Homo sapiens: one gene and its partner. The protein of the gene in region 1 purifies or fractionates together with the protein of each later gene. This does not show direct contact. Each region holds a gene or a part of one and is shown in the gene's direction. Other genes may lie near its edges.

Region 1 (3,695 bases):
GTGCAGTGGCTTACGCCTATCATCCAGCACTTTGGGAGGCCAACACGGGCAGATTGCCTGAGTTTGAGACCAGCCTGGGCAACATGGTGAAACCCTGTCTTTACTAAAAAAATACAAAAAAATTAGCCATGCTTGGTGGCGGGTGCCTGTAATCCCAGCTACTCGGGAGACTGAGGCAGGAGAATCGCTTGAACCTGGGAGGCGGAGATTGCAGTGAACCAAGATTGCACCACCGTACTCCATCCTGGGCAAAAGAGTGAGACTCTGTCTCAAAAAAAAAATAATAATAATTCAATTTGTTTAATAGATTTAGGCCTATTTAGATTATTTCTTCTTTTGTGAGTTTTAGCAGATCGGGTCTTTCAAGGAATTGTTCCAGTTCATCTAGGTTATCAAATTTGTGGACATAAAGTTATTCATGGTATTCTTTGATTATCCTTTTATTATCCATGGGATCTGTAATGATGTCCCATCTTTCATTCCTGATTTTAGTAATTTGTGTGCCCTCTCTATTTTTCTTAGTTAGCCTGGCTAGAAACTTGTTGATTTACTGATCTTTTCAAACAACCAGCTTTTGGTTTTATTGATTTTCTTTATTGATTTCTTGTCTTCAATTTTATTGATTTCTGCTCTAATTTTAATTATTTCTTTACTTCTGCTTACTTTGGATTAAATTTGCTGTTGTTTTTCTACTTTCCTAAGATGAAACTCAGATGATTGACTTTAGATCTTTTTCTTTTTCTTTTTTTTTTTTTTTTTTGTGAGGGAGCCTCGATCCGTCACCCAGGCTGGAGTACAGTGGCGCAATCTCAGCTCACTGCAACTTCCGCCTCCCAGGTTCAAGTGGTTCTCCTGTCTCAGCCTCCCAAGTAGCTAGGACTATAGGCACGCACCACCGTGCCCAGTTATTTTTGTATTTTTAGTAGAGACGGGGTGTCACCATATTGGTCAGGCTGGTCTCGAACTCCTGACCTCCAGTGATCCACCTGCCTCTGCCTCCCAAAGTGCTGGAATTACAGGCGTGAGCCACCATACCCGGCCTAGATCTTCTTTTCTAATATATGCATTTGATGCTATAAATATTCTTCTAAGCACCTTTTGCTGCATTCCACAAGTTTTGATAAGTTATGTTTTCATTTTTATTTTGTTCAAAATATTTATAAAGTTTTCTGGAGATTTCTTCTTTGATCCGTGTGTTATTTAGAAGTGTGTTTTTTAATCTCCAAGTATTTGGGGATTTTCCAGCTACATTTCTGTTACAGACTTTTAGTCTAATTTCATTGTGGCCTGAGATCAGACATTGTATGGTTTCTAGTCTTTTATATTTAAGGGGTTCTGATGCTTACTATTTTTCTTCAGATTGTATTTTTGCCCTTTAGTATGTCTTGTAATTTTTCCTCGATAGCTGGACATGAAGTACTATGTAAAAGGAACTGTGGTAAACAGGCCTGTATGAATGTGGTGGTGAGGTGGTGGGGGACAAGAATCCTTCTGTAGTCCTGTGATTGGGTGTCAATCTTTTGGTGAGCCGGTTCCTCTGGACTGGGAACTTCCCACACGCTTCTCAGAATTTTCCCCTTCCTAGGTGGGACAGGATGACCAGAAGGTGCTGCAGTTTGGTATTTCACTTCCCCTAGGTCAGTTAAGAGTCTGATAAAACACTTTCAGGTTAGGCTGTAATTCAGTAAGTTTCTCCTGAGGGTAGACCTTGTTAAGAAAAACTGGAGGCTGGGCGCAGTGGCTCACGCCTGTAATCCCAGCACTTTGGGAGGCCGAGGCGGGCGGATCACGAGGTCAGGAGATCGAGACCATCCTGGCTAACACGGTGAAACCCCGTCTCTACTAAAAATACAAAAAAAAAATATTATCCAGGCGTGGTGGCGGGCGCCCGTAGTCCCAGCTACTCGGGAGGCTGAGGCAGGAGAATGGCATGAACCCGGGAAACGGAGCTTGCAGTGAGCCGAGATTGCACCACTGCACTCCAGCCTGGGCGGCAGAGCAAGACTCCTTCTCAAAAAAAAAAAAATAATAATAAATAAATAAATAAATAAATGAAAATAAAATTATATTAGAAGACATAGACATAGGCTGCTGTCCAAGTAATTTTCTCCCCAAACCCAGAGTAATAAGGACTTCCCTCTGCCTTCTGGGCTTCTTCATTCAGCCATGGCACCTTGGCTGAGAGAACGGCCCGCCCTCTTTACTCCTCCCCTCCAGATGAAGCCAAGGAGGAGTTCCTGGATCTGCTTGATGTGTTGCTGCCCCATGCCCAGACATATGTCCCCCGGCTGGTAAGGATGAAGGTGTTCCACCTCAGCCTGTCCCAGAGTGTGGTTCTGCGCCACCACTGGATCCTCCCCTTCGTGCAGGCTCTGAAAGCCCGTATGACCTCCTTCCACAGGTGAGTGCTTCTTCCCTCTGCCTCTCCACTCCCTCCCCTCCATGGCTTCTCCTCCTCTCCTGAGCTACTGCGGGCATTACCCCAGCAGGCAGGCAGACCTAAAGATAGAACACGGCCCCTCTCCTGGGGCTGCCTGCTCTACTTCTCATCCTCCGTGACCTTGGGCATGCCGTGGAAGCTCTTGACACCCCTGATGCCGTATCTGCTCTGTAGGAAAAGCCAGCTGTTTTTCTGTAAGCTCTTGCTCAGTACTTCCAGCACTTCTGTGACCAGATGTGTTGAGTTTTTTTCCACACCAACAAATTATCCAACTCTCCAGACACCCACTGGGTGTCCTATAATCGAACTCAATTCTGACACTAATAACCCAGGGTTAGTGCAGACTTCATAGGTTAAGGACTCAGTCCCACAAGACTGCGCTCCTTGTCAGACACCATCTGCAGTGTTGAGCTCTCAGGTTACCCACAACATCTGTCTGATTTCACTACAAATCAGAGGTTCTGTGGACCCTCTCCTCAGGTTTGATCATTTGCTAGAATGGCTCACAGAATTCAGGCAAACAGTCCACTTACTAGGGCGCCAGTTTATTACAAAGGATATGTTACAGGATACACATGAACAGCCAGATGAAGAGATAGGTAGGGTGAGGTCTGGAAGGGTCCCGAGCATGGGAGCTTCTGACCCTGTGGAGTTGGGAGTGAGCCACCCTCCCAGCACATGGGTGCGTTCTTAATCACCAAGGGAAGCTCCTCAAACCCTGTAGTTCCAAATTTTTACGGAGGCTTCATCACATAGGCATGATGGATTATTAACTCAGTCTCTAGCTTCCCTCCCATACCGGGAGGGTAGGGGGTGGGGCTGAAAGTTCCCAGCTTCTAATCATGCCTTGCTCTTTCTGTGATCAGCCCCCATCCAGGACCTCATTGCCTCATTGGAACCAAAGATGCCCCTGTCACCCAGGAAATTCCAAAGGATTTAGGAGCTCTGCGTCAGGAGCCAGGATCACAGACCAGATAATAGAACAAAAGATGCTCCTAGCACCCCTGCTGCTTAGGAAATGACACAGGTTTTAGGATCTCTGTGTCAGGAACTGGAGGCTGAGACCAACACATATGTTATCATTTCACAGTGATAGGTCAAACAGGTCATGGTAATGGTGGGAGCTACCTCACTGGGGGCCTATGGGGGTGAAAGGAGATCATGGGTGCCCTCAGCACACCACTTGGGTGAAGGGTTAGTACCAGACCCCACTTCTGGTTTTGTCTGCCAGCCTGGGGCTTTTTTTTTCCCCTTA
Region 2 (3,871 bases), on another chromosome or scaffold:
TGTGAGCAAGCAGACTGTTTACATTTACATTTATGTCATGTAATGGCTAACAAAAACATCAGAAATGGAATGAAGATTAAGTGGTGTAGCATTACATGCTGTGAGGTCTAATTTTATAATCCTTGTCTTCCAGTTTCTCTACTTTTAATAGAGCTGGGAAGCCATTTGAGTTCTTTATTGGGTCTAGTGACCAAGAAGCTGTGGACTCTGGCACAAGTCTCCTTTTTCTTGACATTCACTTATAAAAATGTTCACGATTTGCCAACTGAAACTGTATATATTCAGCCATCTTTCTCAAGATCATACCTGTAAACAATACTTTTTTGCCTTGATTAATTATTCTTGAGTTGACCTGTTTTAGTGAAATACAATTAGGCTGTCTTTGGAATGACACTGATAGATAGTTTAAACTGATATTAAAAACCTGCTAAATATGCTATAGATGGATTATATGCCAGCCATATTTTTGGTTACTTATTAAGATTGTTAAAAATAAGAATGATGACGAACATCCAATTTTGGAGCTGTAGCATGACTTGGAGGGCTTATTCAGTAATATATTCATGGCATGAATGTTTCTAATTTTAATATAAAGAAGTTTTCATTTCAATTAATGCTATGAAATATTGAGTATTAAAGATTATAGAAAAGCCCATAATTGTGTTACAATGCGATAATAATCATTGGTCACTCAACGGTATCTCTCTACCAAAGATAAGAGGTAGAGAGGCAAATAAGAATTTGCCTACAAAAGACTGAAAACAATGAAATTCTAATAAATGAAAATGTCTTTATATCTTACCAGGTCTTCGTAAGCATGATGTATGCTTTTTAATTACCGTACGTCCCACAAAACCTTATGGCACTAAGTTTGACCGGAGGAGACCTTTTATTGAGCAGGTTGGCCTGGTTTATGTCAGAGGCTGTGAAATTCAGGGCATGCTGGATGATAAAGGACGTGTCATTGAAGATGGTATGGTGACCTATATTTTTGAAAGAGTATGTGTATAGAATGATAAATTTCTTTGCCTTTTTCCCTTTTTGCTTCTTAGGTAATATTTTTTAGTTCTTTTACCTACTAAATTGACACAAAGGATTTTGTATCAAATATGTGTAGGGTACCTACCGTGCAGTTTTAGATATAGGTAACATGGTTTCTCACTGTGTCACACAGGCTGGAGTTCAGTGGCACAATCTCGGCTCACTGCAACCTCTGCCTCCTGGGTTCATGCGATTCTCCAGCCTCAGCCCTGCTAGTAGCTGGGACCATAGGCACGTGCGACCATGCCCGGTTAATTTTTGTAGAGATGGGGTTTCCCCATGTTGCCCAGGCTGGTCTCAAACTCCTGAGATCAAGCACTCCACTTGCCTCGGCCTCCCAAAGTGCTGGGATTACAGACATGAGCCGCCACCACACCCAGACAGTTTCAGAACTTCTATGTTAGATATTGGAAAGGACAGGATCTTTTTCTTTTTTTCCCCCCAAGACGGAGTTTTGCTCTGTCAACCAGGCTGGAGTGCAGTGGCGCGATCTTGGCCCACTGCAACCTCTGCCTCCCAAGTTCAAGCAATTCTGCCTCAGCCACCCCAGTAGCTGGGATTACAGGTGCCTGCCACCGCGCCTGGCTAATTTTTGTATTTTTAGTAGAGACAGAGTTTCACCATGTTGGCCAGGCTGGTCTCGAACTCTGGGACAGGATCTTTTGAAATCATCTTTATTCAAAGCTTTTTAAAATATGTAATACTTTACCATATTTTTTTTAAGAAACACTCTAAATATCTCTTACAGTTGTCCAAGCTTTTTTGTGTTCAATGATATATTTTTTCTTCTTAAATTTGACTATTTTAATTCATTGTAGTGGTGGTTCTTAATTGGGAACAATACTGTCCTGCGTTTGAAAATGCATAGTGATATTTAGGTTTTCAAATGACCGGGATAGAGGTGAGGAATGGCAGGCTCTTGGCATTAGGTAACTGTGAGCCAAGGATGCTAAACATCTGAACAGAAATAAAAGAAGGAATTATCCTGCATAAGATGCCAACTTTACCGCATTTAAAAACACTGCTTTACAAAATTAGTCAGTTATTTGATTTCTTATGTGTATCACTTATTATCCCTTTGAAATTCTTTCTTCTGTTGTCCTGACTTCCTTTATAATACTTATTATTAAATTACAACTGCATACATGTCTAGTGCTTATTTTACAATTTGGTTGTTGTACTTCTTTTGAAACTTTAGTCAGTTTATGCTATCTGTGGTTTAGAGATTATATCATTGCTAAACTGCTGATGATTAAGTTATTTATCTCTAGAATGAGAGGAAATAGGAGAAGGGAATGGAAAATGGATGGAATAAGCATAAGGCCACATAATGGAACCAAAGTTCGAGGTCTAAGACCCCCCCTTCCCCCCACCCCCCCCAAAAAAGAGGAGATATGTCAGAGAGGAAAGAAAAGGCTCTGGGCTTTCAACCATTAGTATCCTACATTTCTGTGTATGTGAAATTTCTTTTCATGCTGGTTATACTAGGTATGGAATGTGGAAGGATGAGAAAAGTGATGAACCTCTGTCAAATTAAGGAATTAATGAATAGAAAACTATGCCTTAAATTCTAAAATACATATATTTAATTAGAAAATATTTATTGAATACTTACTATATGTAAGGCAGTAGTGGGAGCTATGAGTGACAAAAGTAAAGATAAGTTCTTTGACTTCTAAGTACTCCTATTTTAGTTGAGTGTGTGTACAAATTATTGCAAGTCATGGTGTTGCATCGTAAACATTACATGACTGCTATGGAAGGAAATAGTAAGAATTTAGAGAAAGAAGAAAATACTTTCAGCATCTTAGAATTTGAAGTGGGTGAGTGGAGGGCATTCTACTTTGGGAAGAATGGTTGGAGTTAAGCCTGAACCATTTACTCACCATTTCTAGAAAAGAAATACTGTTAACTTATTTTGATATTTGAAAAATACATATTTTATTTAACAAACTTTTTCAAATTGTCCAGGACCTGAACCCAGACCCAATCTTAGAGGAGAATCAAGGACATTTAGAGTGTTTTTGGATCCAAACCAGTATCAACAAGATATGACCAATACTATACAAAATGGAGCAGAGGATGTGTATGAAACTTTTAATATAATAATGAGGAGAAAACCAAAGGAAAATAACTTTAAGGTAATTTGGGGGTATGTAACTAAAAGTACTATGTCATAATTTAAGTAACTTTTATGACATAAATACAGAGATATTTGGTTAGAGGAAGATTTGTTAAGAAAAAAATAATGACTGCTTTTATTTTTACTATAAGCAATCCTCTTAAACTTTTAACAAAATGATGAAATATAAAAATTTAAAGAAATTGATTTCTTAAATCTATTTTGTCTTTTGAGGAGTTTAAAAACTTAAAATATAGATGAATCCAAGTGTTATTCTAAAGGTCCACCTCCTTTTTTGCTTTTTGTATATTAGGTATTCAGTTAATGCCCTATTATGAAGTGAAGAAAACTTGCTTACTTGTTTACTGGGGCTTCTTTTTTGAATCAAAAGTAGGTATACTTCCAGGTCACTTTAAGAATACAGATATGGAATCTCAAGGCTCTGAATTACTATACGTTATAATATATTTTTACTCATTAGTAGGAAAGGGAGGTTTGGTGGCTCAAAGTTCTACTTTTAGAATAACTTTGTGGGGAGAAGAGTTTTAGTAAAGGATAGTTTTAAAAACCATTATTTGAAACTATATTATAAAACTTAAACATTGAACAGTTCTAGCATTTGATACATGTAGCTTTTGCAGAAAGAGTGCCTTTCTTTTCTCTTTCTCCCAAAGTGCAGTACTTCTTAGACATTCCTATCATTTTATT

The links.
Region 2: the proteins of USB1 (region 1) and AQR purify together in Homo sapiens (affinity purification with mass spectrometry; 3 studies listed by BioGRID and IntAct, with this or other methods). This does not show direct contact.

Annotation. Positions count from the first base shown.
Region 1 is NC_000016.10:58,007,712-58,011,406, forward strand, and holds part of USB1 (U6 snRNA phosphodiesterase 1), read left to right. Parts: intron 1-2,217; coding exon 2,218-2,401; intron 2,402-3,306; coding exon of another isoform or gene 3,307-3,418; exon of another isoform or gene 3,419-3,695. UniProt on the Homo sapiens protein: 3'-5' RNA exonuclease that trims the 3' end of oligo(U) and oligo(A) tracts of the pre-U6 small nuclear RNA (snRNA) molecule, leading to the formation of a mature U6 snRNA 3' end-terminated with a 2',3'-cyclic phosphate.
Region 2 is NC_000015.10:34,903,647-34,907,517, reverse strand, and holds part of AQR (RNA helicase aquarius), read left to right. Parts: intron 1-805; coding exon 806-973; intron 974-3,012; coding exon 3,013-3,182; intron 3,183-3,871.